Linked DNA regions of Homo sapiens. The protein of the gene in region 2 purifies or fractionates together with the protein of the main gene of each other region. This does not show direct contact. Each region holds a gene or a part of one and is shown on either strand. Other genes may lie near its edges.

What was found. The genes of interacting proteins can lie anywhere in the genome.
Region 1: the proteins of SULT1C4 (region 2) and WDR59 purify together in Homo sapiens (affinity purification with mass spectrometry; one large-scale study listed by BioGRID and IntAct). This does not show direct contact.

What each region holds. Positions count from the first base shown.
Region 1 is NC_000016.10:74,912,124-74,915,623, reverse strand, and holds part of WDR59 (GATOR2 complex protein WDR59), read left to right. Parts: intron 1-3,261; coding exon 3,262-3,426; coding exon of another isoform or gene 3,427-3,477; exon of another isoform or gene 3,478-3,500. UniProt on the Homo sapiens protein: As a component of the GATOR2 complex, functions as an activator of the amino acid-sensing branch of the mTORC1 signaling pathway. The GATOR2 complex indirectly activates mTORC1 through the inhibition of the GATOR1 subcomplex.
Region 2 is NC_000002.12:108,380,954-108,384,453, forward strand, and holds part of SULT1C4 (sulfotransferase 1C4), read left to right. Parts: intron 1-758; exon of another isoform or gene 759-808; coding exon 809-934; intron 935-1,431; coding exon 1,432-1,529; intron 1,530-2,139; coding exon 2,140-2,266; intron 2,267-2,462; coding exon 2,463-2,557; intron 2,558-3,500. UniProt on the Homo sapiens protein: Sulfotransferase that utilizes 3'-phospho-5'-adenylyl sulfate (PAPS) as sulfonate donor to catalyze the sulfate conjugation of phenolic compounds.

The sequences.
Region 1 (3,500 bases), on a different chromosome or scaffold from region 2:
GCCAACATGGTGAAACCCTGTCTCCACTTAAAAAAAAAAAAAAAAATTAGCCTGTAATTCCAACTACTCGAGAGGCTGAGGCACAGGAATCACTTGAACTTGAGAAGCAGAGGTTGCAGTGAGCCAAGATCGCACCACTGTCCTCCAGCCTGGGTGACAGAGCAAGACTCTGTCTCAAAAAAAATAAATAAAATAATTAAATAAATAAATAAATAAATAAGTAAATAAAGAGATGCAGACTTTCTTTCTACCCCTATTCTTTTCTCCTAAGATGAGCCAAAGGAGAACCTGATGCTCGTGTGCCTTAGCTCCTCCTTAGATGCTCCAGCATCTCATTTTACTGTAGAGGAAGATACTTAGGCCCTGGAGGCTTAGTGATTTGGCAGAGGTTGCTGCTGAAGTTGGGGACAGAGTTGACTTGGGAAGCCAAACCTCCAGCCCGTCCAGGGCACTCTGTGCTGTGCTGTGCTGTGCTGTGCTGGGCTGTGCCATCTTCTCTCACAGGCTGGCCATTTCCTGGTAATTTAGATTCACAGTAAGAAGGCAACCAAAACTTCTTTGTTTGCTTAGCCTGTGGAACAGTTACTTTTTTGGGGGCAAGTATTGAAAGTCTTTGCTTCAGAAAATTGAGTATCTCTCCAGAAAGGAGTTTTAAAGCTTGATTAGTTTTTCCTTTACCCAAATATGTGCTGTTACATAACTATCTCATGTGGCTTTTAAAACAAGTCTGCTGGCCAGGTGCGGTAGCTCACGCCTGTAATTCCAGCACTTTGGGAGGCCAAGGTAGACGGATCACAAGGTGAAGAGATCGACACCTTCTTGGCCAACATGGTAAAACCCCGTCTATACTAAAAATACAAAAATTAGCTGGTCATGGTGGCGTGCGCCTGTAGTCCCGGCTATTCACGAGGCTGAGGCAGGAGAATCGCTTGAACCCAGGAGGCAGAGCTTGCAGTGAGGCCGAGATCACACCACTACACTCCAGCCTGGCGACAGAGCAAGACTCCGTCTCGAAAAAAAAAAAAAAAATAGTCTGCTGTAAGTGGTTTTAGCCTCACTTTACAGCTGAGGAAACGGAGACATCAAGAGAAGAAATGTCCAAGGTCAGCAGCTATTTGGTGGAAGAAACAACATGTGAATCCAGGTCTCCAGATTTGCCACATGTGGTTCTTTTCTCTTTACTCCAGCTGCTGTCTCTAGTTGGCAACACAAGAAATGAAAAGATATAAAGGATTCTTTGCTTAATTAGTGATCTATATCAAGTCAGTTTATACTCCCTTTGTCCCATTTGAGGACAGTGTGGATACCTAGTGATCTAGTTTAAGATCTTGATTCCTTTCTTCGAGAGTACTTTAAAAAAATTATTGAGATATAATTCACACAGTATAAAGTTCATCTTTTTTTTTTTATTGAGATGGAGCCTTGCTCTGTCCGCTCAGACTGGAGTGCAGTGGTGCTACCGTGACTCACTGCAGGCTCTGCCTCTCGGGTTCACGCGATTCTCCTGCCTCAGCTTCCCAGATAGCTGGGATTATGGGCGCACGCCACCACGCTCAGCTAATTTTTTTTCGTATTTTTAGTAGAGATGGGGTTTTTGCCATGTTGGCCAGGTTGGCCTCGAACTCCTGATGTCAGTTGATCTGCCCACCTTGGCCTCCCAAAGTGCTGGGATTACAGGCGTGAGCCACTGTGCCCAGCCAAAATTCCGCTTTTTAAAGTATATAATCTGGCTGTTGTGGGTATATTCACAAAGTTGTACAGCCATTACCATTGTCTGATTCCAGAACATATTCATCATTCCCAGAAGAAACCCCATACCCATGAGCAGTCACTCCCTATTTCCCCTTCCCTCAGCCCGTGGCAATCCCGAATCTACTTTCTTCCCCTATGGATTTTCCCAGGAGCACTTTTTAAGTTGAGTCTGGTATTTAACTTCTTCCTGCTTTATTTTCCCATCTCAAAGTAAATATAACAAGTTTCAGTCTACCCCACAGCTTTGGGAGGGAGGAAGCTTTGTTAAAGTCAGAATACTTTGAACTTCGTGGTGGCTCATGCCTGTAATCCCAGCACTTTAGGAGGCCAAGGTGGGTGGATCACTGGAGGTCAGGAGTTTGAGACCAGCCTGGCCAACATGGCGAAACCCCATCTCTACCAAAACACAAAAAGCAAAACAACAACAACAACAACAAAACAAAGATTTGCTGGGCATGGTGGCCTGTAGTCCCAGTATTTGGGAGGTTGAGGTGGGAGAATCACTTGAACCCAGAAGGTGGAGGTTGCAGTGAGCTGAGATTGTGCCACACTGCACTCCAGCCTGGGTGACAAAGTGAGACCCTGTCTCAAAAAAAAAAAAAAAGAATACTTTGTGTTGGGAACAGGCCCCCTGAAATCTGGCCATAAACTGACCCTCTGTGTTGTTTGTCTTTGTGTAGTCTGCAGATGTGGATCTTGACTCCTGCAAGAAGTAGCTCACCGTGACAAAGCTGCCTTTGCTTTTATCACTTTGCAAATCAAAGAAGGGGGACATGTTGGGAACAGGCCCCCCCCCCCCCCAAAATCTAGCCATAAACTGGCCCCAAAACTGGCCATAAAGTCTCTGCAGCACTGTGACATGTTCATGATGGTGGTGATGCCCACGCTGGAAGGCTGTGGGTTTACCGGAATGAGGGCAAGGAACACCTGGCCCACCCAGGGCAGAAAACCGCTTAAACACGTTCTTAAACCACAAACAATAGCATAAGCAATCTGTGCCTTAAAGACATACTCCTGCTGCAGATAGCTAGCCACAGCCCATCCCTTTATTTCAGCCCATCCCTTTGTTTCCCATAAGGAATACTTTTAGTTAATCTATAATCTATAGAAACAATGCTTATCACTGGCTTGCTGTGGATAAATACATGGGTAAATCTTTGTTCAAGGCTCTCAGCTCTGAAGGCTGTGAGACCCCTGATTTCCCACTCCACACCTCTATATTTCTGTGTGTGTGTCTTTAATTCTTCTGGCACTGCTGGTTTAGGGTCACCCCGACCGAGCTGGTCTCAGCAACTTTGAGCTTATTCCATTGGTTTGAAAATTTTAAGAATCTGGTATGAAAATTTAAGAATCTTTTTGAAAATGAATTGTCTTCCACACACATTTGTCTTTGTAGACTCTTTCCCTTCATTCAATTACCAGGAACATGGAGCGTTCAGTTAAATGTGCTTGCATCGAAAGACGCTTTATGGTTTGTTTCTACAGCAATTGTGGATTTGTCTCTTGCAGATGGATGCGGCAGACAGGAGCTGCACAGTGTCTGTGCACTGCAGCAACCATCGTGTCAAGATGCTGGTGAAGTTCCCTGCACAGTACCCAAACAACGCCGCCCCTTCCTTCCAGTTTATTAACCCCACAACCATCACATCCACCATGAAAGCTAAGCTGCTGAAGGTGGGGGTCTGGGTTCCCAAATTCTCCTTGCTGTTCTGCATCATTGTCTAGATGGATTAGTAAAGAAGAATGAA
Region 2 (3,500 bases):
GGGGGAAACAGAGAAAGGCGAAAAATTGAATACTAAGTGCTAATGGTCAATATCAAGTTCAAGCCCTAATGGTTCACTCATTCAGCCAACAAATACTAAGTGTCTCCTACGCTATGCAACTGGGAAAAAGAGAGTTTGAAAATCATGTAGTCATTTCTCTATAGCAGATCACAATTTGGGGAGAATGTCCTTTCTAAGGACAATACAGCTAAATAAATAGAACAATAATAACAATCCAAATTAATAGTTGTGACAGAAAAAAATAAATGTATATTTATCAGTCTAATGTCCATTCAAAATTGGAGTATTTTTTTAAAATCATATTATGATAATAAGATATAAATAAGGAATGCTATCTTCTGAATCCCATTTAAAACCTAGCTTTTAAATTCACATAGATGGTCCAGGCATGGTGGCTCACACCTATAATCCCAGCATTTTAGGAGGCCGAGGCGAGCAGATCACTTGCAAGCAGATCACTTGAGCTCAGGAGTTCCAGATCAGCCTGGGCAACATGGTAAAATGCCGTCTCTACAAAAAGTATAAAAATTAGCCAGGGGTGATTGTGTATGCATGTAACCCCTGCTACTCAGGAGGCTGAGGCGAGAGGATCGCTTGAACCCAGGAGGCAGTGAGCCAAGATTGCACCATTGAACTCCAGCCTTGATACAGAGCAAGACCCTGTCTCAAAAAACAAAACAAAACAAAACAAAACAAAAGACATAGATGTTCTAACAAGTATTTGATCATATTTTAAGGAATGTACTATACTAGATGTCTATTCATCTTCATTTTACGTGCACGTAAGGAACAACATGGACTCAGGAGATAGTGGAATTAATACAAAATGAAGGTGATGTGGAGAAAAGTAAACGGGCACCGACTCATCAACGATTTCCTTTCCTCGAAATGAAAATCCCATCCTTAGGATCTGGTGAGTATAAATAGCCACACTTCACTACAGTCCTAAAATGCACTTAGGATTTTTACTGTCTTTGCACCTTTCGAAATTATAGGCTTTCAAACAATTATTGGTAAGTTTCATGGTTTTGTCTTTTTTTAACTGTGTCTGGCCATTGTTATACTCCAGACATTTTCTAATGGAATTACTGTTTGTACAAAAGTGAGTTAAATTTTGTTTCTCTAGTTAGAAATTAATTTTACTTCAAAAGAATAAGCTCAAGTAAGATAATCCTGGTGAAAGGGTTTGAATTTTTTAGGTTCTTATTTATTTGGATGACTGTTATGGTTAGGAATTGTTCTAGTCAAAACATCTATTCATAGGCTAGACGTATTCTCTCACACCAGATCTACAGTTACAATGTTCTTATAGATGCTTTGAATTGTAGTAGTAATAATGGAAGCAGCAAGACTTGGAAGCAAATAGATAAAAAAAAAATCGTAGAAATTGATCGAAAACCAGTTTTGCAGGTTTGGAACAAGCTCATGCAATGCCCTCACCACGGATCCTGAAAACACATCTTCCCTTTCACTTGCTGCCACCATCCTTGCTAGAGAAAAACTGTAAGGTAAAAAAGCAAAAGGAATTCAGAGTTGTACTCCTTAAAACAACCTTAGTCTTCCATTTCCTCTTAAAACACTTCACTTGTTAAATATATATATATATACCTCTTCACAATAATCAATATGCAAATTAATATGAATCCTAGCCAGGCACGTTGGCTCATGCCTGTAATCACAGCATTTTGGGAGACTGAGATGGGTGGATCAGTTGAGGTCAGGGGTTCAAGACCAGCCTGACCAACACGGCGAAACCCCATCTCTACCAAAAACACAAAATTCACAGGACGTGGTGACACATGCCTGTAATCCAAGCTACTCAGGAGGCTGAGGCAGGAGACTCGCTTGAACACAGGAGGCAGAGGTTGCAGTGAGCCAAGATAGTGCCATTGCACTCCAGCCTGGGTGACAGAGCAAGACTCCATCTCAAAAAAAAAAAAAAAAAAAAAAAAAAAAAGTCTCCCATAACCAGGATGACAAGAATGCAGCCTCAGAAAAAATGAACTGTATGAAATGTATCTACCCTAACATGACTTGCCTGGGCAGTAACAGCAAAAAAAAAAAAAAAAAATTCCTGTTTTTTTGCTTCTTCCCTTCCCCTCCCCTCATCATTCCCAGATAATCTATGTAGCAAGAAATCCCAAGGACAACATGGTGTCCTATTACCATTTCCAAAGAATGAATAAAGCTCTTCCTGCTCCAGGAACATGGGAAGAGTATTTTGAGACTTTTCTGGCTGGGAAAGGTGAGAGAATTTAGCTTTGTTTCCCTTCGTTTCTCAAAATCTCCAAACACCCTAGAAGGAAAGAATCTTTTCTTTTGACCAGCAGGGGCTCTGCCTTCTTTAATGGAACATTCTCACTTCTCTTCAGGAATTCTCCTTTCAGTGGTATAATAGGACCTCTGTGACTCATTGTCCTGTTTTCCATCCCATCCTCCAGTGTGCTGGGGCTCCTGGCATGAACATGTGAAAGGATGGTGGGAAGCCAAAGACAAACACCGTATTCTCTATCTCTTCTATGAGGACATGAAGAAGGTGAGCACAGTGCCATCTAAGGTGTACCCACTGGACCATAAAACATTTAAGTCATAATGCATTGACCCCATCAGGGACTCAGATTGATGCGGGGAACCGAAAATTGCTGCACTTCATTGGTTACAGCTGTCATTTGTCAAAGTGCACATGGCTGATCATGAGTTTAAGTATCACACAGTCTCACCTGCAGCTTCCTGGTGCTCCCAGGGATGCTGCACATTTCCCTTACAGGCAGGTTATTACACAATATGGATGGTGTCATTTTCTCCCTTGCATGTCTATTTTAAAATGCAGTTTAGCAGGAAAAAAAATCCTAGCACATTTTGGTTTCTTTGGTTTTTGGGTTTTTTTTGTTTTTGTTTTTGTTTTTGAGACAGAGGAGGAGTTTCACTCTGTCGCCCAGACTAGAGTGCAATGGTGCGATCTCAAGTCACTGCAAGCTCCGCCTCCCGGGTTCAAGAGATTCTCCTGCCTCAGCCTCCGGAGTAGTTGGGATTACAGTCGCCTGCCACCATGCCAGCTAATTATTTGTATTTTTAGTAGAAACCGGGTTTCACCATGTTGGCCAGGCTGGTTTTGAACTCCTGATCCCAAGTGTTCCACCCTCCTCAGCCTGCTAAAATGCTAGGATTACAGGCATGAGCTACCATGCCCAGAGTTTTTGTTTTTTTATTAGCACTGAGGAACATAATACTTTATTTATTTATTTATTTATTTATTTATTTTATTTATTTTTTGAGACGGAGTCTCACTCTGTCACCCAGGCTGGAGTGCAGTGGCGCGATCTCTGGCTCACTGCAAGCTCCGCCTCCCGGGTTCACACCATTCGCCTGCCTCAGCCTCCCACGTAGCTGGGACTATAGGCACCCGCCAGCACGCCCGGCTAATTTTTTGTATTTTTTACTAGAGACGGGGTTTCACCGTGTTAGCCAGGTCTCAATCT